Linked DNA regions of Homo sapiens. The protein of the gene in region 1 interacts with the protein of each later gene in a pairwise test. Each region holds a gene or a part of one and is shown in the gene's direction. Other genes may lie near its edges. The genes, in order: COA3 and SURF1.

Evidence for each region.
Region 2: the proteins of COA3 (region 1) and SURF1 interact in binary tests that used the Homo sapiens proteins (3 or more experiments, as listed by UniProt).

The regions. Positions count from the first base shown.
Region 1 is NC_000017.11:42,796,619-42,807,015, reverse strand, and holds COA3 (cytochrome c oxidase assembly factor 3 homolog, mitochondrial), read left to right. Parts: upstream 1-8,311; 5' UTR 8,312-8,334; coding exon 8,335-8,548; intron 8,549-8,848; coding exon 8,849-8,955; 3' UTR 8,956-9,391; downstream 9,392-10,397. Other genes in the region: CNTD1 (cyclin N-terminal domain-containing protein 1), read right to left, coding at 198-342, 1,132-1,294, 2,620-2,791, 3,321-3,396, 7,780-7,948; serine/threonine-protein kinase WNK4, read right to left, coding at 10,258-10,397. UniProt on the Homo sapiens protein: Core component of the MITRAC (mitochondrial translation regulation assembly intermediate of cytochrome c oxidase complex) complex, that regulates cytochrome c oxidase assembly.
Region 2 is NC_000009.12:133,353,062-133,363,970, reverse strand, and holds the start of SURF1 (surfeit locus protein 1), read left to right. Parts: upstream 1-7,483; 5' UTR 7,484-7,517; coding exon 7,518-7,571; intron 7,572-7,650; coding exon 7,651-7,702; intron 7,703-9,013; coding exon 9,014-9,147; intron 9,148-9,229; coding exon 9,230-9,312; intron 9,313-10,030; coding exon 10,031-10,222; intron 10,223-10,909. Other genes in the region: SURF4 (surfeit locus protein 4), read left to right, coding at 212-478; SURF2 (surfeit locus protein 2), read right to left, coding at 2,832-2,915, 3,537-3,706, 3,842-4,021, 6,157-6,260, 6,903-7,057, 7,301-7,378. UniProt on the Homo sapiens protein: Component of the MITRAC (mitochondrial translation regulation assembly intermediate of cytochrome c oxidase complex) complex, that regulates cytochrome c oxidase assembly.

The DNA.
Region 1 (10,397 bases):
AAAGCCTTTAGGGTTTTCCTGACCAGGCTCAGTCACCTGCATCCAAACAACATATTGGAACTAATGAGAACCAGGTAGCCTGAGTAGGTTATCTGGGACTGGATGCCATGCTAGGCTAATTCCATTCCCCAAGTTCTTGTGGTCTGTCTCCCCTTCCCTGTTCCTGGAAGGAGCCTACCCTATAGGAGTTGTCTTACCCTTGCAGCTGACTGGGAGTGGAGTTCTCAATTGAAGCCCTCAACAGGCTCTCATATATGGGTTCATGCAGAAGATAGACCAGGTCGAGCAGTGTCAGGCAGGTTGCATGCAGCCTCATGGCTGGAACCAAACAGCCATTGTATCCTAGATGGAGTATGGGAATGATAGGGAGAATTTATGATCATGTCTTCTCTGATCATAACCACAGTTGTGACATAAAGCTGTTGAGGTGCTAATGTGCTTCCTGGTTGCTATGTTCTACTACAAGAAACCTGTTTAGCTGGAGATCAGTTTTAAAGGACAAAGGTAGAGGTAGAGAAACCTCCATCTGTAGTATACATACAATTAGCATGTAGTTGTCCCTCTCTTATCTTATGCCTCTCTATAAAGTCACCTCTTTGATCCTGCAATAAGAGTGCCTAGTGAGTCCAAACAGAAGCCAGTTGCTAAGACCTCTGAGCTTTCCCTGACAAGTGCCGGAGGGAACACCTGTTTCAGTCATCCAGAGACACCATCAAGCTTCCTACTGTTCCTCATTGGCAGGTTCTGCCCACTGTTCCCAAACCCCTGTGCACATTTTTTTTTTTTTTTGAGAAGGAGTCCGCTCTGTTGCTCAGGCTGGAGTGCAGTGGCATGATCTCGGCTCACTGCAACCTACACCTTCCAGGTTCAAGCAATTCTTGTGCCTCAGCCTTCCAAGTAGCTGGGATTACAGGTGCCCACCACCACACCCAGCTAATTTTTGTATTTTTAGTAGAGATGGGGTCTCACTATGTTGCCCAGGCTGGTCTTGAACTCCTGGCCTCAAGTGATCCACCTACCTCAGCCTCCCAAAGTGCTGGGATTACAGGCATGAGCCATGCCCCCCCATGCACATTTTGTATTGCCTTCTATGGAAGTCTCCAACCCATATTCCCTAACACAGTAAGATACCTAAAACCTCTAGGAGCGTCTCCACATATGCCAGGGGAGTGGGCAGATTAATTCGGAAGTTCAAGGACTTCAAAACATCAAGCTCTGATTCCAGCAGTTCTTCTTTAGTGTGTAGATAGCCTAGAGCCTGGAGGAAATTCAAGACTGTAATGTTGCTGATTATCTGAGCAAAGAAAAGAGAGGGAAAGAAGAATGTTAGGATAAAGTTCATACGTCTTGACAGAGTGCACAAAGCCCTTCATAATCCAGCCTATTCCTTCATCTTCAGTCTTGTCTCTTGGTAATTCCCCCTCACACTCTGCTTGTCATTCCAAATTGCTTACAGTTCCCAAACCCACCATGCTGTCCCTCTCCAAGCCACTACACAGGCTGTTTTCTATACCTGGATCTCCCTTCCTTTCCTCCCTAATTCCTCTCCCTCTTCTCTTAGGATCCTCCCATCTCCCACCCACCCCATTTCAAGAAGTCATTTTCTCTAAATACACTTCCTTGACTCTCCAAGGCTGATGAGGTACATTTATAGCCCTCTGTATTTACATTAATCAGAGCTTTTTTTTCCACACTATTTGTATGTGTCTTTTCCCATTACATAATAGGTTCCTTGTGAGCACAGACAATATTTGTACTGTTGTAGCCATGGCACCTGGTGCAGCATCTGGCCATAGAATAAACTCAGAAAGTATTTGTTGAATGAATGATATTTTACTGTATAGGCATTGGGTAGTGATGTGGAAACATTTTTTTCCCTTATAAATGTAATAGTTTGCTTCTACTGTTGATAGGTATGCTGGCAATTCAGGCACCTTATGTAAACTGCCCTTGAGTCCAAGGGGGGAGGAAAGGTGACCAGTATGAATGATGGCATCTGTCCCAATTATACTTTGGGAACAGAACTTCAGGCTATTTAATAACTGCCTCTGTGTGAGTGAGAGGGGGAGAAAGATCATGTGTGTGCGTGTGTGTGTGTAGAAGGTATGCTTAGGAAGCATAATTACACTCTGGAATTTCCATGAGTTGTATCACCTAACCTAGGAGTAGGTTTCTTACAGCTACCTTGTTTTTTTGTTGTTAGTTTTTTTGAGACAGAGTCGCTCTGTCGCCCAGGCTGGAGTACAATGGCACGACCTCAGCTCACTGCAACCTCCGCCTCCCAGGTTCAAGCAATTCTCCTGCCTCAGCCTCCTGAGGAGCTGGAATTACAGGTGTGCGCCACCACACCTGGCTAATTTTTGTATTTTTAGTAGAGACAGGGTTTTACCATGTTGGCAAGGCTGGTCTTGAACTCCTGATCTCAGGTGATCCACCTGCCTCGGCCTCCCAAAGTGCTGGGATTACAGGCATGAGCCACCGCGCCCGGCCGTTGTTTTTACTTTGTAATTTATTTATTTTCTTCTTGTCACTGACTTGAAGCTCATCACAGCCCCCCTTTGTATAAAAGCTGGTTTCTTCCTAACACTCAGGTGCCCATGAGCAACCCCAGCTCCTTACTTTGTTTCGGAAGGAAAGTTTGCTGGCCAGCTGAACACATGACACAAGACGGAGAGTAAACTTGTTGACAAGCTGCTGTTTCAGAGCCCTCCAATTCTGAGACTCTCTCTTATTATCTCTTGGCTGGATTGTGGCTTGCCTGCAGATGTTCTCTGCCTGTTTTACCATAAACCTGTAGGGAAGGGAGGGAGAGTAAACAATCCTCACTCACACAAACTAAAGGGAGTTTAACTTGCTGGTTAAGAAATTTACATTTGAGGCTGAGCATGGTGGCTCACACCTGTAATCCCAGCACTTTGGGAGGCCAAGGCAGGCAGATGACTTGAGCCCAGGAGTTCAAGACCACCCTGGGCAACATGGCAAAAGCCCATCTCTAAAAAAAAAAAAATAGCCAAGTGCGAAGTGTGGAGGCACATGCTTGTAGTCCCAGCTACTCAGGAAGCTGAGGTGGGAGGATCACTTGAGCCCAGGAGGTCAAGGCTGCAGTGAGCCAAGATCCCACCAGGCACTCCAGCCTGGGTGACAGAGCAAGACCCTGTCTCAAAACAACAATAACAACAAAGAAATTTATATTTGCAAGTTAGAGAGGGTGTAAAACCAGGTCTCAGGGTAAGGGGCAACTACTCATACTTTCTTAAAGATGTAGGTACATTAGCCACTCTGAGAGGTGCCGTTCAAAAGGCATTATGCCAGGGCTTTACCTTTCTAGGATTTCTACAGCCTGGTAGCTCACAGATTTCTCCAGACACCATTGTTCAGACAGGAGAAAAACAAACTCTGCCAAAACAGGAAAAAAGAGCCTAATTCACAAGATGCAACCAAAACCACTCTGTGAACTCTTGGCATTGTGTAAAAGCCGTGATGGGGCCAAGGGAAGAGGGTCAGGAGGTGAGAAAGATGAGACTAAAACAACCAAAGCTGAGCTTAGTTTCTTTTGCTGCCAATAGGCAGATCAGAGACATGTAAAGGAGGCTGACTGAGTGCCAAAGACAAGGGCTTACCAAGCCCCCTCAGTGACCCTTGAGCCTTCCTGTGGGTTTCAGCTGATAAAAGGCTTGGCCAGTTACACACAAACATACCAGCTGGTCTATGTGACCTCTACACCATGCTGGGAACCCCCAGCTTCAAGGAAGATTCTTGGATGGATAAAAACCCTAACTCCTATATTCTGTTTTCTGTGGAATGTTGGCAGGAACAGAAAGATCCCTCCTGGAGCTTTGATATTCTTTATGACACTGTTTGTTTAGTAACCACCCTCTGGAGAACTCCCATTGCTTTACAAACACAAGTCACCTTACAGCTGGACACCATCTCTCCACCACCAGTTTGCTGGGTAAATCTGTGGTGGCTGAGCCTCTCCCCAGGAGCAAGTGTGTTACTGTGAAGTGGCTTGTTTTGAAGAAACATCCCCTAAATTGGAGAACATAGCCCAATTTAGGGGGAGGGAGTCATTGGGAAGGTGGGAAGGGTGAGATACCTTGGCAAGATTTTAGCCTGCCTCTGTTTCTCTTTGAAAGAACAGCTCCAGATAGAATTATATTTATCTTGCAATATCATTAGAGGGTGGAAACAAGGGTAAATGTCAGTTCTCAACAAAGAAAGCTCCTACAGACTGAAGACCTTTTAGCATTGATCCGTAGAGAATTACACATTTAGTCAAATAATCATATGTCTTCAGAGAAAACTTAACTTTCTTAGAAAATTTAGTCAAGCTTACACAAGTAACAATCTACTCAACACACATTACACATAGATAGATGTACAAAACCTCATCGTTACAGAGGCTACAGTTTGGCTAGCAATGTCCAATGCAGGACAGAATTAGTTTAAGCAATTCAGCATAATACCCTAGAACATATAATTGTGTCTCTTATTAGTCATTTTATTTGCTGGACTTTAGGCTTTATTTCTTAGTTTTGTTCTTTGTGTATGTGTGCAGTTGTTAAGTTTTGGTTTGGTTTTGCTCTGAATTATCTGAGCATTTGTTTCTGTTTTCCATTTTAATTTGCCAAAAAAACTGAGCTTGGATTAGGTGGAATGGATGAGGGTTACACCTTTCCCTTGCTATTGGCCCCACCTCCTCGATAACAAGCATACTCAGATCTGCTATTAACTAAAAGACCCTCCCCTTTTAACCTCTCTCTTTCCCATCACTGTTGAATTTTTTTTTAAATAAATAAATAAATAAATAATAAATAGACGGGATTGTCCTATGTTGCCCAGGCTGGTCTCAAACTCCTGGGCTCAAGCAATCCTCCCATCTCAGCCTCGCTGTTGAATTACTTGAAAGCCTGGCTTACACACCCACTGCTTCCACTTCATCGTTCACTTCCTAATTTTCTATCTGTTGGCTTCTACCTTTCCTAACTTGCTGAAATGATTCTCAGAGGACAGTAAATATGTCCAAATTGTTAAATATCATGGCTTTTTGCAATCTTTAGTTCTGTTGATATCCCTAAAGCATCTGAAACTTCTGACCATTATCCTTTTCAAAGTCTCCTCTTGGCTGCCAAAAGTCCCTTGGTTCTGTTCCTATCTCCTCCTTTTATTTCCTTCACAAGTCTTCTTACTCCAATTCCCTGAACACAAAGTGTTTTCCCAAGGAACTGTCCTTGACCTGCTTTTCTTTTCTCCTTCTAGGAGCTTATCCTCTGCCACAGTTTCAACAATATCATTGTGAAGATAACTTGAAAACCTTGATCTCCATTTCTGACCTCTCTTCTAACCTACTCTTTGAATAGTCTACAAGAACACTTCTTTTAGATGTTCTGCAAACACCTTAAACTCAGCAGATCCAAAACTAAAGCTATTATACACACACACACACACACACACACACACACATATATTATATATATATATATATATATATATATATATATATATTTTTTTTTTTTTTTTGAGACAAGGTCTCACTCTGTTACCCAGGCTGGAATGCAATGGCGTGATCTTGGCTCACTGCAACCTCTGCCTCCCGGGTTCCAGCCATTCTCCTGCCTCAGCCTCCCAAGTAGCTGGGATTACAGGTACCTGCCACCATGCCTGGCTAATTTTTGTATTTTTAGTAGAGATGGGGTTTCACCATGTTGGCCAGGCTCCAAAGCCATTATTATCTTTCCCAAACAAAAGTCACTTTTCCTCCTGCTTTATTTATGTAGTGTGTCTGTGTTTTTTGTGTTGTTTTTTTTTGTTGTTGTTTTTTTTTTTTTTGGGAGACAGAGTCTTGCTCTGTGGCCTAGGCTGGAGCGCAGTGGCACAATCTTGGCTCACTGCAACCTCCGCCTCCCAGGTTCAAGCCATTCCCCTGCCTCGGCCTCCCGAGTAGCTGGGACTACAGGTGCCTGCCACCATGCCCAGCTAATTTTTGTGTTTTTAATAGAGACAGGGTTTCACTATGTTGGCCAGGCTGGTCTCGAACCCCTGACCTCGTGATCCACCCGCCTCAGCCTCTCAAAGTGTTGGGAATACAGGCGTGAGCCACCGTGCCCGGCCGTGTCTGTGTGTTTCTTTTAATGACCACTATACTTCCAGTCTTCCAGGCTCAACCGTTTAGCATAGTCACGTTTTCCTCCTTCACTTCCTAAATTTATCCACAGCAGAACCCTAGACTTTGCCTCTAGAATGTTTTTAATCCACCCTCCCTTGTTATTCCCTCTGCCCTATCACCTAGCCTACTGACATTGACTCTACCTGTCTGCCTACATCCCATCTCCCTCTGGTTTAATCCATCCTTTACCTCCTTTACATCACTGCCAAAATAATGTTTACTAAGGCAGGGTTACCATCGTATCCCTTATTTTAAAACCTTCACTCCCTTATTTAAAAACCTTCAATGTCTTCTTGGTTTCCTACCAAACCAAGGATAAACTCTTCCCCTTGGCATTCAAACTTCCACATGGAATGTCTCCAAACTACCTTTCCAGTATTAATTTCAACTATTCTTCCACATGCACTGGCCAACATGGACTACACTGTACCCACATGCACCCTAAGCACCCCATTTCCATAGCTTTACTCATGCTACCTCTTTTTGGTAGAAACACTGTCTCCTTCCTCCCCCTTCACCAACCCAATGTCCTCCTTCCTTCAAGGTCTGCCTGAAATGTCCCGATGCCTGGGCCATCCCCTGAATTCTTCCTATTACCCCATCGCTCCTCTCAACCCCCATAAACGCTTGTTTTATTTCTCTCTGACGTCTCTTATCTAACCATAGTACCTAGTCATTGCATATTTGTTCTAATATCTCCCCCAAATTGCACATGGTTTGAAGGCAAGACCTCTATCTCTATTTCATCTTTCTTTTCTCTTTTTTTTTTTTTTTTTTTTTAGACAGAGTCTCGCTCTGTCACCCGTCACTCAGGCTGGAGTGTAGTGGCGCCATCTCAGCTCACTGCAAGCTCCGCCTCCCGGGTTCATGCCATTCTCCTCCCTCAGCCTCCGGAGTAGCTGGGACTACAGGCGCCCGCCACCACACCCGGCTTTTTTTTGTATTTTTAGTAGAGACGGGGTTTCACCATGTTAGCCAGGATGGTCTCGATCTCCTGACCTCGTGATCTGCCCGCCTCAGCCTCCCAAAATGCTGGGATTACAGGCGTGAGCCACCGCGCCCAGCCTTTTTTTTTTTTTTTTTTTTTTTTTTTTTTTGAGACGGAGTTTCATTCTTGTCGTCTAGGCTGAAGTGCAATGGCACGATTTCGGCTCACTGCAACTTCCGCCTCCTGGGTTCAAACAGTTCTCCTGTCTCAACCTCCCGAGTAGCTGGGATTAGAGGTGCGCGCCACCAGTCCTGGCTAATTTTTGTACTTTTAGTAGAGACAGGATTTCACCATGTTGGTCAGGCTGGTCTCGAACTCCTGACCTCAGGTGAACCTCCCACCTCAGCCTCCCAAAGTGCTGGGATTACAGGTGTAAGCCACCATGCCTGGCCCTCTATTTCATCTTTCTAGCCAAGCGGTGCCACTCAAGTATTCCATACATGTCGAAGAAATCAAGGGGAGGGCACTGTTGTGACTTATCCATCACTATATCCCCAGCACCCCACAGAGAGGTGTTAGCAAACATTCTCTGAATGAATAAAATCAACGGAATCTCAAGGTCGGTGCCTGAAAGACACAAGCCCCAGTCTCCCAAGAACCCAGCACCCCGGCCCTGCAGCCGCACCCACGATCTGGGGCTCCCTGAAGCGGCCCAGCCGCCCCGAAGCCTCCCTCACTGCTTGCTCATTCTGCTGGGCCAAGTGAAGCAGGGCGTCTTCAATCGTCTCTGTGGCGACAACTCCAAACTGAAAGTCAACGAGGGAGGCCGATCGTGGCCTCATGGGTCCGTCCATATTCACGAGCCTCTTGGGGCACCTGGACGGGTTCACTGGATCCACATACCGACCCCCTTAGCTCCTCTCCAGTCTTCTGCCACACCCTGGATTCCTCGTCCCCTTCCAATGAGTGTGTCGTCGCCTCAAGTCTGAGGAAAACCCAATTACCACCACAGCCTCGAACCCTCCACAGCTTTTTCCCGCCCCAACGGCCACGGACTCCTCAGCCAATCAGAAAGCACGTCCGCTTCTCACCTCCCGCGTCCATCCCCTGTGCCCGGGAACCGCGGCTCTGCCCCGCAAAGGGCACGCGGACTACAACTCCCAGAGTCCACTGCAGCGGCCAAGGGCTACTGTTCCCAGCGAGGCCCGCGCGGCGGCACCGCGAAGGGAGGAGTGGCAACATGGCGTCTTCGGGAGCTGGTGACCCTCTGGATTCTAAGCGTGGAGAGGCCCCGTTCGCTCAGCGTATCGACCCGACTCGGGAGAAGCTGACACCCGAGCAACTGCATTCCATGCGGCAGGCGGAGCTTGCCCAGTGGCAGAAGGTCCTACCACGGCGGCGAACCCGGAACATCGTGACCGGCCTAGGCATCGGGGCCCTGGTGTTGGCTATTTGTATCCGTCCGTGTTGTAGACTCAAGGGGACCGCATATAGGGGCAGGGGAACAGAGTGTGCAAGAGGGCTGAACCACCCGTTTAATTTTGGGGTAAAATGGGTAGTACTTTCCTTTGTTATTCCTAAGGTACTCTTTTAATTTGATTTATTAATAATAACGGAATTGGGGTTCAGGGTTTAGAAACAGCAGCGGCGGGAAGCCGGAATCACTGATTTGGGAGAGTAACAAGAGTGGTAGAGCAAATCTAGGAAAGGGGAATGTGCATATTCTGTGTGGTTTCCTGAACCTACCTCCCCAGATGGTTACACCTTCTACTCGATTTCCCAGGAGCGTTTCCTAGATGAGCTAGAAGACGAGGCCAAAGCTGCCCGAGCCCGAGCTCTGGCAAGGGCGTCAGGGTCCTAATCTGGATGGGTATTGATCATGTCCAACCTGCTGGAGCCCCTTCACATGGTGGATGATGCCCCATGACCCTGTAGAAATTGAATCCTGCTCACAACATTGTTGGCCTTCTTACTAACCTTGGACCGTGATTGAGCCCAAGAAACCAGGGACTTACGCATTTGGCCAATGTCAAAAGAACAGAACTTTGCCCACTGCACACTTGCTGTGTACAATGACTGAGCCCTTTCTTGTAGTTTGTTTCCTTGTTTGAGAGGTGTGCATGCGACCGTGGCTTTTCCCAAAGTTTCTGACTTTGTGGTTTACCCCCTTCACCTTCCAGGGACGCAGTTGTTACGAGGTTAGACGTGGCAGCTCTGTGCAGTGTTTGAGCCTACAGTGGGATACATAGGGTCAAATTGAGAATAATAAACTGAGTCATTCTCCTGGAGTCAAGTGAGTATGGAGGCTGAGAGGCAGCATATGGCACTTCATGCTGGAAAGCTTCACAAGCAGTAGCTGCAGTGGTGGCATTGCCCCAGGGAGCTGTAAATGTTTAACTAGAATTACTTTTTCCATGAGATCTTTCCACCTGATTTAAGGGAGAGATCACTGGGCAGTTTGAGACTGAACCCACGTCTTAGGGGAAGGAAGGTCACTCTTCTGTCCTCTACCCACAAGAACATACTGTAACTCTACTGCTTTTCCCATCCCCAGAGAGAGGGAGGGAGAGAGAGGTGGATGAAGGGTGAAAGACAAGCAGTCTTCATTCTTTTAACTTTCCCTGGTACCTGCCTATACAGGTCTAGGGTGGGGTCTGGAGGGGATCCTAACTTAGTCAAGTGGATCACTGACCTTGCAGTTTCCTCATTAACTGATGGCAGGAAGCCAGAGGGCTGGGCAGCTTCCACCCCTGCCTCCCATTGTGAAAAGAAAGTCCCTTTTAAATCCTCCCCTGCCTCACCCCACAAGTCTTTGCTCCCCCAATTCCTAAGGCATGGCATATGGATTCACGGCGTTCTTGTTTCCAGCATTTTTATTGGTTGCTGCTAATGTGGTGTGAGCATATCCCCTACACTCTCCCAGCTGGGAGTGGGCCCCTCTAGAAGCATCCAGGCTTGGGTGGGATTGCTTAGTGGTTGACTCTTGGCAGGGGAGGTGCTAGAGATGAAGATGGTAGGCAGCAGAACTAACACCTCCACACAGCAAACAGTTCACATATGTTTGGCTCTTCACTATAATGGAGCTGCACTCTCCATGCCCCCCTGGCCTTCTACCCCTTCAGTGTTGGGATCTTCCTTGCTCAGTTTTGTTGATCAGAAAGCATCAGATTCTGAGAACACAAGCTCCATGGTGGGCCCTGGTGTGGGGGAGATACATGGCTTCTGTTCTGAATTCACTGGAGGGAAAAGAAAAAGTGATGAAGAAACCTCCAAGGTGGGAGGAAGGCGAAGCTGCAGCCAGGT
Region 2 (10,909 bases), on another chromosome or scaffold:
CCAAACCTTCCACATTTCAAAGCTGGTGCTTTATTGCCTCCTGCCTCCCTTTGGCTTTTATCTCCCTACTTGCACCAGCAGCCGTCTCAGCAGTAGCTACATCAGCCTGATGGATAGAGACTTCATGACGTGCAGCAGCTGGAACTTTTGTTTATAAAGCATCTCTTTTCCTCACATTTATTTTGAATTTCTTACGTTTCAACCTATGCAGATTGTCCAGAACATCGTGGGCACAGCTCTGATGATTTTAGTGGCCATTGGTTTTAAAACCAAGCTGGCTGCTTTGACTCTTGTTGTGTGGCTCTTTGCCATCAACGTATATTTCAACGCCTTCTGGACCATTCCAGTCTACAAGCCCATGCATGACTTCCTGAAATACGACTTCTTCCAGACCATGTCGGTGATTGGGGGCTTGCTCCTGGTGGTGGCCCTGGGCCCTGGGGGTGTCTCCATGGATGAGAAGAAGAAGGAGTGGTAACAGTCACAGATCCCTACCTGCCTGGCTAAGACCCGTGGCCGTCAAGGACTGGTTCGGGGTGGATTCAACAAAACTGCCAGCTTTTATGTATCCTCTTCCCTTCCCCTCCCTTGGTAAAGGCACAGATGTTTTGAGAACTTTATTTGCAGAGACACCTGAGAATCGATGGCTCAGTCTGCTCTGGAGCCACAGTCTGGCGTCTGACCCTTCAGTGCAGGCCAGCCTGGCAGCTGGAAGCCTCCCCCACGCCGAGGCTTTGGAGTGAACAGCCCGCTTGGCTGTGGCATCTCAGTCCTATTTTTGAGTTTTTTTGTGGGGGTACAGGAGGGGGCCTTCAAGCTGTACTGTGAGCAGACGCATTGGTATTATCATTCAAAGCAGTCTCCCTCTTATTTGTAAGTTTACATTTTTAGCGGAAACTACTAAATTATTTTGGGTGGTTCAGCCAAACCTCAAAACAGTTAATCTCCCTGGTTTAAAATCACACCAGTGGCTTTGATGTTGTTTCTGCCCCGCATTGTATTTTATAGGAATAGTGAAAACATTTAGGGACACCCAAAGAATGATGCAGTATTAAAGGGGTGGTAGAAGCTGCTGTTTATGATAAAAGTCATCGGTCAGAAAATCAGCTTGGATTGGTGCCAAGTGTTTTATTGGGTAACACCCTGGGAGTTTTAGTAGCTTGAGGCAAGGTGGAGGGGCAAGAAGTCCTTGGGGAAGCTGCTGGTCTGGGTGCTGCTGGCCTCCAAGCTGGCAGTGGGAAGGGCTAGTGAGACCACACAGGGGTAGCCCCAGCAGCAGCACCCTGCAAGCCAGCCTGGCCAGCTGCTCAGACCAGCTTGCAGAGCCGCAGCCGCTGTGGGCAGGGGGTGTGGCAGGAGCTCCCAGCACTGGAGACCCACGGACTCAACCCAGTTACCTCACATGGGGCCTTTTCTGAGCAAGGTCTCGAAAGCGCAGGCCGCCCTGGCTGAGCAGCACCGCCCTTTCCCAGCTGCACTCGCCCTGTGGACAGCCCCGACACACCACTTTCCTGAGGCTGTCGCTCACTCAGATTGTCCGTTTGCTATGCCGAATGCAGCCAAAATTCCTTTTTACAATTTGTGATGCCTTACCGATTTGATCTTAATCCTGTATTTAAAGTTTTCTAACACTGCCTTATACTGTGTTTCTCTTTTTGGGGGAGCTTAACTGCTTGTTGCTCCCTGTCGTCTGCACCATAGTAAATGCCACAAGGGTAGTCGAACACCTCTCTGGCCCCTAGACCTATCTGGGGACAGGCTGGCTCAGCCTGTCTCCAGGGCTGCTGCGGCCCAGCCCCGAGCCTGCCTCCCTCTTGGCCTCTCATCCATTGGCTCTGCAGGGCAGGGGTGAGGCAGGTTTCTGCTCATAAGTGCTTTTGGAAGTCACCTACCTTTTTAACACAGCCGAACTAGTCCCAACGCGTTTGCAAATATTCCCCTGGTAGCCTACTTCCTTACCCCCGAATATTGGTAAGATCGAGCAATGGCTTCAGGACATGGGTTCTCTTCTCCTGTGATCATTCAAGTGCTCACTGCATGAAGACTGGCTTGTCTCAGTGTTTCAACCTCACCAGGGCTGTCTCTTGGTCCACACCTCGCTCCCTGTTAGTGCCGTATGACAGCCCCCATCAAATGACCTTGGCCAAGTCACGGTTTCTCTGTGGTCAAGGTTGGTTGGCTGATTGGTGGAAAGTAGGGTGGACCAAAGGAGGCCACGTGAGCAGTCAGCACCAGTTCTGCACCAGCAGCGCCTCCGTCCTAGTGGGTGTTCCTGTTTCTCCTGGCCCTGGGTGGGCTAGGGCCTGATTCGGGAAGATGCCTTTGCAGGGAGGGGAGGATAAGTGGGATCTACCAATTGATTCTGGCAAAACAATTTCTAAGATTTTTTTGCTTTATGTGGGAAACAGATCTAAATCTCATTTTATGCTGTATTTTATATCTTAGTTGTGTTTGAAAACGTTTTGATTTTTGGAAACACATCAAAATAAATAATGGCGTTTGTTGTATGCAGTGTGATCCTATAGCGTTGCCCAGCCTGAATGGGGCTCCCCTCAGGATGCCAGTGAGCGAGGTTACTTCTCTAGGCTTCTCTGAAGACCACTCAGAAGCCATGTCCAGAGAGAATTAGTCCCTCAGAGTCCCTGCTGCTTCCTGGGTGTGGGGGACAGACTCCCTCAGCCCTGCCTTAGAGGGCAGCAGATGTCATGAGACAAGGATAAGTGGGTAGAGAAGACACTGGGGACAGCCGATCATTCAGAGGACACACGGTTTGATCAGGAGCGGGGGAAATATCTGAAGGCTTTCTCGAAACTTCACGGCATGTGCTTTTATTAACCTGGCTGTTTACAGGAGCTGAAGCTCTTGGGTTTGCGGTGATGACTCTTGAACTTCTTTTTCAACGAGCCCAACTGCTTCTGTGGGATAAACAAAATTCTGATTACTGAGCCTTTCTGATCCCATGGAGAAGGGGCCCTGGAGTGCAGGGCTCTCCCCACCCACACAGCCTCAGAGGTGTCGGTCAAATACCCACAGAGGCTTTCTCCACCCCCGTTTCCTTAACAGCTGCAGGATTAGACCCCGCTCAGCAGGGCCTCAGAGGAGTACAGTGCAATGCCACACACTCATTAGGACCTTGTCCTCTTTTGGCCTTGGTCCTGCTTATCTACCAAAGGCGGGGAAGTCTCCACTCCTGCCCTGATGGCAAAGGCAAAGGTGGTGGCTAGTAATCAGGTCCCTGTGCCCAGGGGTAAGGACAAACACGCCACAGCTCATAGTCTGAGGTAGGAGGGTGTCCTCACAAACCAGTGGTCTTGACCGTGGTCCACAGAGCCTGGCTTCCACAAGGGGCTGGCTGGGAAGCAATGGTAGGCACTCACGGCCTTCCGCCAGCCAGCGGCCTCGGCTTCTATGGTTCTTGTGTGTTGTTGGCTTGGGATTTCACTTGTGAAAAAGGTTCAGTTTTCTTTTTTTAAACAAATGGAAAACCATCACTAGGGGAAGCCACTGCCACACTAACAGAGGAGGTGACAGCTCACCTTCCCGCGCTTCTGGACCAGCCCTCGGTACACGGTCGTCTCTCTCCTGCCCTCATCAGTGGCCTTCTCTCTTGGGGGCTTTGCCTTCTCATCCTCTTTGTCTGTCAAAAAGTCATCAGTGCCATCCCCATCCTCCGTGCTTCCAAGGTCCTTTCTGGTGAATAGCTCAGCTGGGAGGAACACAGGGATTGGCTGACAGTTATTTTAGGCTGAGTTCGCTGCCACCTTTGCAGGGGAGGCAGCACCACAGTCTGCTCCCTGCTGACAGTAGAGGGTCAGGGAGAAGCAGGGCCTGTTCTGCTTACGTGGGTACAGGTCTGTCATGCTGTCATCACTTGCAGCTCCCCCCTCATCACTGGATGTGGGCTCCCAGAAGGCTTCCCGCGGGCGAGGCCCGTCACCGTCCATCTGGTCCTCCCTCCTCCTCCTCCGGTGCACCAGGCAGGCAGGCACGTACTCCACCCCTTGCTTCTGACATTCTTCATCTGGGAGATAAGCCAGCACGTGCTGGGTACCTCCACACCCCCCACGGTCCTCTGGGCCACAGCTAACTTATGAGGACTGCACTCGGCCAGGGCCCCACAGCCCCACCGCCCTGGACAAAAACCAGAGCAGCTGCTGGGTGCCTCAGCTCTGTTCCTACCAGGTGTGCAGGGAGGGTGGTGGGCCAGGGCTGCAGCCAGGAGGCAAGAAGATGGTAGAGGTCTACGGGGCCTTTACCACTCATCCCCGATCTAGCCAGGCCTAGGAAGCCACGGCTAGGAGGGCACTGACCAGGCCCAAGGCCAACTGTGCCCCAGTGAGCTTGGCATGGCCTCTCAAAGGCAACTCGGGCTGGCAGTGATGCCACCCTCTCCCCAGCAGCCTGAAGTCCTCCCTCAGCACATGGGAGACCCCGTCCCGGAGGGCGGGGCTCAGTGGAGGTTGGCTGCCTGGCCTTTGCTGCCCCTTAGTGGGTGAGAAGGGAGTTGGGACAAGGCTTCCATGGAAAGACCTCACTGGAGTCACCACCGTTGTCCCCTTGTATATTGGAGGGTCTGCTGGGGCTTGCCCTCCAGCCCAGCGCAGCTACCATCATCATCCCTCATGGGCTGCATGAGCCCTGCTGGGCCCTGGCCATTGATGTGGCGGCCCATCTCCAGGGCTGTTTCCCTCCTTGTCTCTGCCACCCACCCCCATGGCCATGCAGCAGCCTTGTCACCACCAGAACGTGAAGGCAGAGCCCCCTTACAGCCACGTTTGGACTTCCCTGGACCACTGCCTTGCAGTGACCTCGGCGCCCCAGTCCCATCTCAGCTCCACAGTCCACCATCATAACCATTCTTCATGGGAACCCCGTGGCCCCCTGCACTTAGAGCCTTCCTGCCCACCCCTGAGCAGCTAACACACTGGCTGGAAAAAGTCCAAGCCTCAGGCTGGCAGCCCTTGTGCCTGCAAGGCCTCTGCAAGGTGCCCGCCTTCTACTTGAGAAACCCTGGTCCTGCCTTCTCAATCCACACTCATGCTTCGGGAGGGCTGGACTGCCTCTCCGCACTCATCAGAAGCCCGTAGACGCATCTTCCCATCCGCAAACCAACCTGAATCTGTCCGCTCCAGCCTCTGTCCATTTCCCTCCTTAGCTGGACTCCAGAAAGGCTTTCTGGTGACCCAGCACCTGCCTAAGGCCGGACACTGCCCTCATGGGCTGCAGCCTACGCTCCACTCTAGCCAGGTGTCCCTGCCAAGCTTCAGGTGCCTCACCAAGGTTGCCAGGGGCCTCTGTGTTATCAAATCTATCATTTTTCTGTCCTCATCTTCCCTTCAGTACCACGGGAGGACTTCCAGCCTCTTCCTGGGGCTCAGGACCAGGCCTCTCTCCCTTCTCTAAACTCTCGCCGGGTGCTCACCCAGATCCACGGTGCAACCATCTCCTTCATCCAGCACGGGTGTCCCTGTTTCAAAAGCCCGATACTTCCCTAATACACACCTTTCCTAATACAGCTCAAGCTTAAAACCTTCAAAGGGACTCTGAATTCTCCCCCCAAAACCCACCGTCTTTTCCTGGATGACCGCAGTCAAGGAGTCCTCCCTTCTCAACCATGCACACTGTCCATGCAGCCCCCACCCAACCCTCTCCACACACCCACTGCAGTGCTCCTGGCCTGGTCTCTGGGTCATCCGGGCTGTGCACACTAGCCCAGCCAGTCCTTTGGAGCCTACCTCAGCCAACACATTTTTGCCTCAGACTTCCATGGACCCTGGCTTCTCCCTGGGGTGCTGTTCCCCCGACCCCACTGCCACCACATCCCTCCAGCCTCAGCCTCGAGCGAATCCCTCAGCGAGTCTCCCCAGCCCTCCTGTCTCCGCAAGCCCACCCCACATCCCTCGCCCAGTTTCTTTCACACCTCGCATTGCCACGCACACTCACTCACTCCCGAGCCTGCTTCTGGCTCTGTGCCTGCCTGCACTAAAAGCTGTGGGGTCAGGGGCCATCATCCCTCTCTTCACTGTGCCAAAAAACAGGCCTGATGCATCAACACGGATCGCTGAAGGACGACCTGCCTTCAAGCACGCTCCATCTGGGGCAAGGCGGGCATGCACTCAGATGGCGATGCACTGATGGGGGTCCACTGGGACTTACATTTACACAGAGCTCGCTGGTACCGCCGGCCCTGGGTGTGCCTCAGCACGTGTTCTGGGCACTTGTTGATGTGCCGCAGGGTGAGTTTGCAGAACAACTGGTGCCTACAGAGCAGAGAGACCAAATTTGTAGGGACAGTTCACAGCAAGGATTCAGACTGGTGGCTGTGTCTTGGACTCATCCCTGGACAGTCTACCATGCGGCTTGGACATCGGGCTTTTAAAGGCTCCCGGAGCAATTCCACTCTGAAGCTGGGTGGGGAACCGTCTGACCCAGGCCGACTGCAGCCTCTTAATGTTTACCGGAAAAGCACGCATGGCAGCCTCACTGACTGCTCCAGGATGAGTTCATGCAAGAGGATGGCTCCACCTGGAGCAAGGGCTCAATGAATGGAAACATCCTATCTCTGTTTTGACGATTATTACAAAGCCTAGCTCCCAGCTAAATCAAAGACCCCTTCTGGGGTTAAGGGAAGAACCCAACGCTGTTCACAACCTCAGGTGACAAATCACAAGCCTCTACTCATCTGGGAAGCAGCCACACCCCACAGGACAAACCTCAGGTGAGCAAACGAGCTCACCAAGAGGCCTCGCCGCTGGGACCGCAGGTGATTCCAGCACCCGGGCGCCCACCTGGGTCCCAGGGCTCCCAACTCTGAAAGAGTAGGGGCTGCAGCACTGGCGGAGTCCAGCGGAGGGGCTGTCCTAATTGCCCTGGGCCTCCCCGCGCCGCCGCGGACCACCTACGGGTTCTTGGTGCTGGGCACGATGTGCGGCTCGAACTCTGCATAGTCGAAGGCCGGGGAGGCGCGGACCAGCCGCTGGTACTTTTTGCCGCGGGTGTAGACCTGGAGCTCCGGCAGGCGGCAGGGCAGCTCGTGACCTGTCAGGATGCACCTCACCTGCGGACGCGTGGGCGGGCAGGACGTCAGGAGGGCCAGGGCTCCGCTCCCTGGTGCCCCCTCCTGCCGCGCCCCCTTCCCTCTCCTCCCCTGATCCCGCCGCGCCCTCTCCCCTGCCCTCCCCTCTCTCCTGCTCTCCCCTCTCCCCTCTCCCCTGCCCTCTCCTCTCCCCTGCCCTCCCCTCAGCCCCTCATCCCAACTGCGCCCTTCTCCGCCACTCCGTTCCCCTCCCGCGCTGCGAACCTTGCGGGCGTCCGTCTGGAGCCGCAGGCTCGGGTGCTCCCGCAGAAACGCCCGCACGTCGCCCGGCAACTCGCTCATGGCCGACGCGCCCGCGGAGCAGCCCGGCGGAAGCCGCTCGCAGAACCTGGAGCCGGGGGCGGGGCTCTGGGCGGGACTCAGCGGCGCCCCGGATGCAGATGCTTCCTGCGTCCCGGAAGCGCCCGCGGGGCCGGGTGCGATGGCGGCGGTGGCTGCGTTGCAGCTGGGGCTGCGGGCGGCGGGGCTGGGACGGGTGAGCGCCGGGTGCGGGGTGCGGGGTGCGGGGCGCGGGGAGGGGTCCCGGAGCTCAGCCCGCCCGTCCGTGTCCGCAGGCCCCGGCCAGCGCCGCCTGGAGGAGCGTCCTCAGGGTCTCCCCGCGCCCAGGTGAGGGCTGCAGGCCGGGCTGTGATCCAGGCGCCTGGGCAGAGCCACCTGCTGTCTGCCCTGCACTTTGAAGGGTTGTCGTGGGGATTGAAATGAACCAACTGCCGGCTGAGCGGAGGCTCCCTGGGAGTGACAAGTTCCGTATTAAAATGCTTTCAGTGGAATTGTGGTCGTGTGCCGGGCATGTAGCGAGCGCTTTGTCCTCACAACGCGAGAGGTAGCTCCTTGGTCGTTCCCCTGTTACAGAGAAGGCTCGAGAGTTACTTCCGAACGTCCCATCCAGCTAATGGGTGGCCAGCCCAGGCTGAAAGCCCAGGGCTCTGAAAGTAAAGCGTATCTAACCACCGCGGCTTACGTGTTCCTCTCAGTGTGCAGCACAGGGCTGTTTTGCCGTGTGTAGAGTGCTGTGCAAGCCTGCCCCAGGCCTGCCTTTTTATAAAAAAAAAAAAAAAAATAGTATCCGCAAGGCCCCTGGTGCTTTTCAGCGGATGGAACTCATCCTCTGAGAGCTTAAAGGCACTTTCTGTGTACATTCTTCCCTCTTTACATTTACGATGAGTTGTAAAAATGGAAAGCTGTTAAGAGAGCTCTGTGAGCCATTACTGAATTGATATATTTTTCTACATAACACAACAACCACTAGTGCCTGACTAAGCTACTTAGTAACTGTAGCTGCTTATTTTTTATTTTTTGAGACAGTTTCGCTCTTGTTGCCCAGGCTGGAGTGCAGTGGCGCAATCTCGGCTTACAGCAACCACCTCCTCCCAGGTTCAAGCGATTCTCCTGCCTCAGCCTCCCGAGTAGCTGGGATTACAGAAGCACCATCGTGCTCAGCTAATTTTTGCATTTTTTTGTAGAGATGGGGTTTCTGCATGTTGGTCAGGCTGGTCTCGAACTCCTGATCTCGTGATCCGCCCGCCTTGGCCTCCCAAAGTGCTGGGATTACAGGCGTGAGCCACCGTGCCCGGCCAACTGTAGCTGCTTATTAAATGCATTTTGAATGGATGAATGGTGCATCTTAGTGCAGTGGAATACATCTAGATTCTTGAGTAAAAAGGCATGAGTTACTCAGGGTCGTGGTTGGTGGTCAAACCGGCACTGAGCCCTAGATCCCACTTACTCACTTGGCAGACGTACTGTGTGTGCCTTGTTCTGGGCACCGGGTTAGGAGCTGGGCTGGATACAGGTGCTGCTAGTTGGCTCTAGGCAGCAGGTTTTGATTGGCAGTACTGGAGTCTGTCTTGGAACGGGCTGCTCCAGGTCTGTGTTCGAGGGCTTCTGGCTCCATGTCAGTGTTGTGAAACTCTCCAGGGGTGGCCTGGAGGCCAAGCAGATGTGGCAGTTCTGCAGCAGAAGCATCTGCCACAAAAGCGGAAGATGACTCCTTTCTTCAGTGGGTCCTGCTCCTCATCCCTGTGACTGCCTTTGGCTTGGGGACATGGCAGGTAAAGACCGGCATCTGGTGTGCGTAACTCTGGGCCCTTGACCTTGCTGCCATCTGCTTGGCCTTATGCTCTGTCACTGTAGGTCCAGCGTCGGAAGTGGAAGCTGAACCTGATTGCAGAGTTGGAGTCCAGAGTTCTGGCTGAGCCTGTCCCTCTGCCAGCCGAGTGAGTGCATGGCTGCCCCCCTAGGGCCTGTTTTACTTGAGTTCAACAGCAGAGCCCTGGCTTCTGCTGGCCAGCTTGCCCCTTTTGGTGGGACTTTTAGTCACTGCCTTGACCTCAGGTGGGAGCTCTCATTATCAGTCATCTGTTGGGCTTGCTGTTGACACCTGACTGCCCTTGTGAAGCTACCTGAGACCGCCTCCTGACATATGGAGGAAAGTCTTATTTTGAGTCCTGGGTGTCACCCTTTTTTCAGGTATAGTAAACTTATCCTCCACAGGGCCCAAGGCCCTGTGGCTGAGGACAGATAATGTAGGTCTCACCGTGAGGGTGGTCGTTTGAAAAAGTGCCCTGAATGATTTGTCTGCTCTCTCCCTAGAATATGCCCTACAGAGATAGGTATATTCAGCCACATTTTCCATTCAGGGTAGCAAACAGTATGCCAGATTTGGCTTGCAGATGGGGTTTTGGCCCACATATTTTTTAAAATTTCACATAAAATATTCATTGAGGAGTCCAGATTTTTAGCCTCTCTTGTAAAGTTGGACTCTGGCAGTGCAGATCCACATTCCCACATGGCATCAAAGTTCCCCTTTGAAGAGCACGCCCTTTGCCTTTCTCCTTCACTTGTCTGGCCCTGGTGGGCTGTGTAGTCTGCCACCCTCAGGGGATTCGTTTTCCAGCCAAACCTTGCTCGGCCACTGTTCTTATCTCCATGCAGCCCAATGGAACTGAAAAATCTGGAGTATAGGCCAGTGAAGGTCAGGGGGTGCTTTGACCATTCCAAGGAGCTGTATATGATGCCCCGGACCATGGTGGACCCTGTCCGGGAGGCCCGGGAGGGCGGCCTCATCTCCTCCTCAACTCAGAGTGGGGCCTATGTGGTCACTCCCTTCCACTGCACCGACCTGGGGTGAGTAGGACATGTGGGAGCTGGCTGTCCTGGCAGAGGCAGTCAGGGTATACTAATTTACATCACTATTTCCTTCACAATCCCCAACCTTGGTAGGACCCTGGGGAACCCAAGATACCCAGGAGATTCAATTCCTTGCATAGTTTAAGTCCCTAATTGTGACATTGACTTAATCTTCTCAGCCAGCTCATTTATGACTGGATAATTTCTGTATGTTGACCTCTGAAGGGAAAGGAGGGATTCGTGAAACAGGGGCCCTGCCTCTGGAGAACTGTCTAGTTGCCCACACATTAGATGATGGCAAGCTATGAGGGGCCAGCAAGAGGACTTCAAGAGAAAGGACCCCAGCCCTACCTTGAGGGAGTGGAGGCAGGGGTGGCTCCCTAGAGGGCTATTTGGGAGTTAAGAGATGGGAAGAACATTCCAGGCAAAGCAAATGACAGGTACAGGAGCACCTGTGTGATTAACTAGGGAACTGGAGGATTCACGTAAAAATGAAAATACCTGGGGCTCTTGTTAACCCATGGGTTCCTGTTTTAGGGCTGGGATGGGGCCCAAGTACTCATCTCCAGCAGGCTGGGGTGCCAGGGCTGCTCCTCACGGCTGCCTTGGTTAGGAGGAGGGATTGGAGACAGCTCTTGCCATAGTTCAGGGGAGAGGTGTGGGGTCTAAACTCTGGCGTGGCAG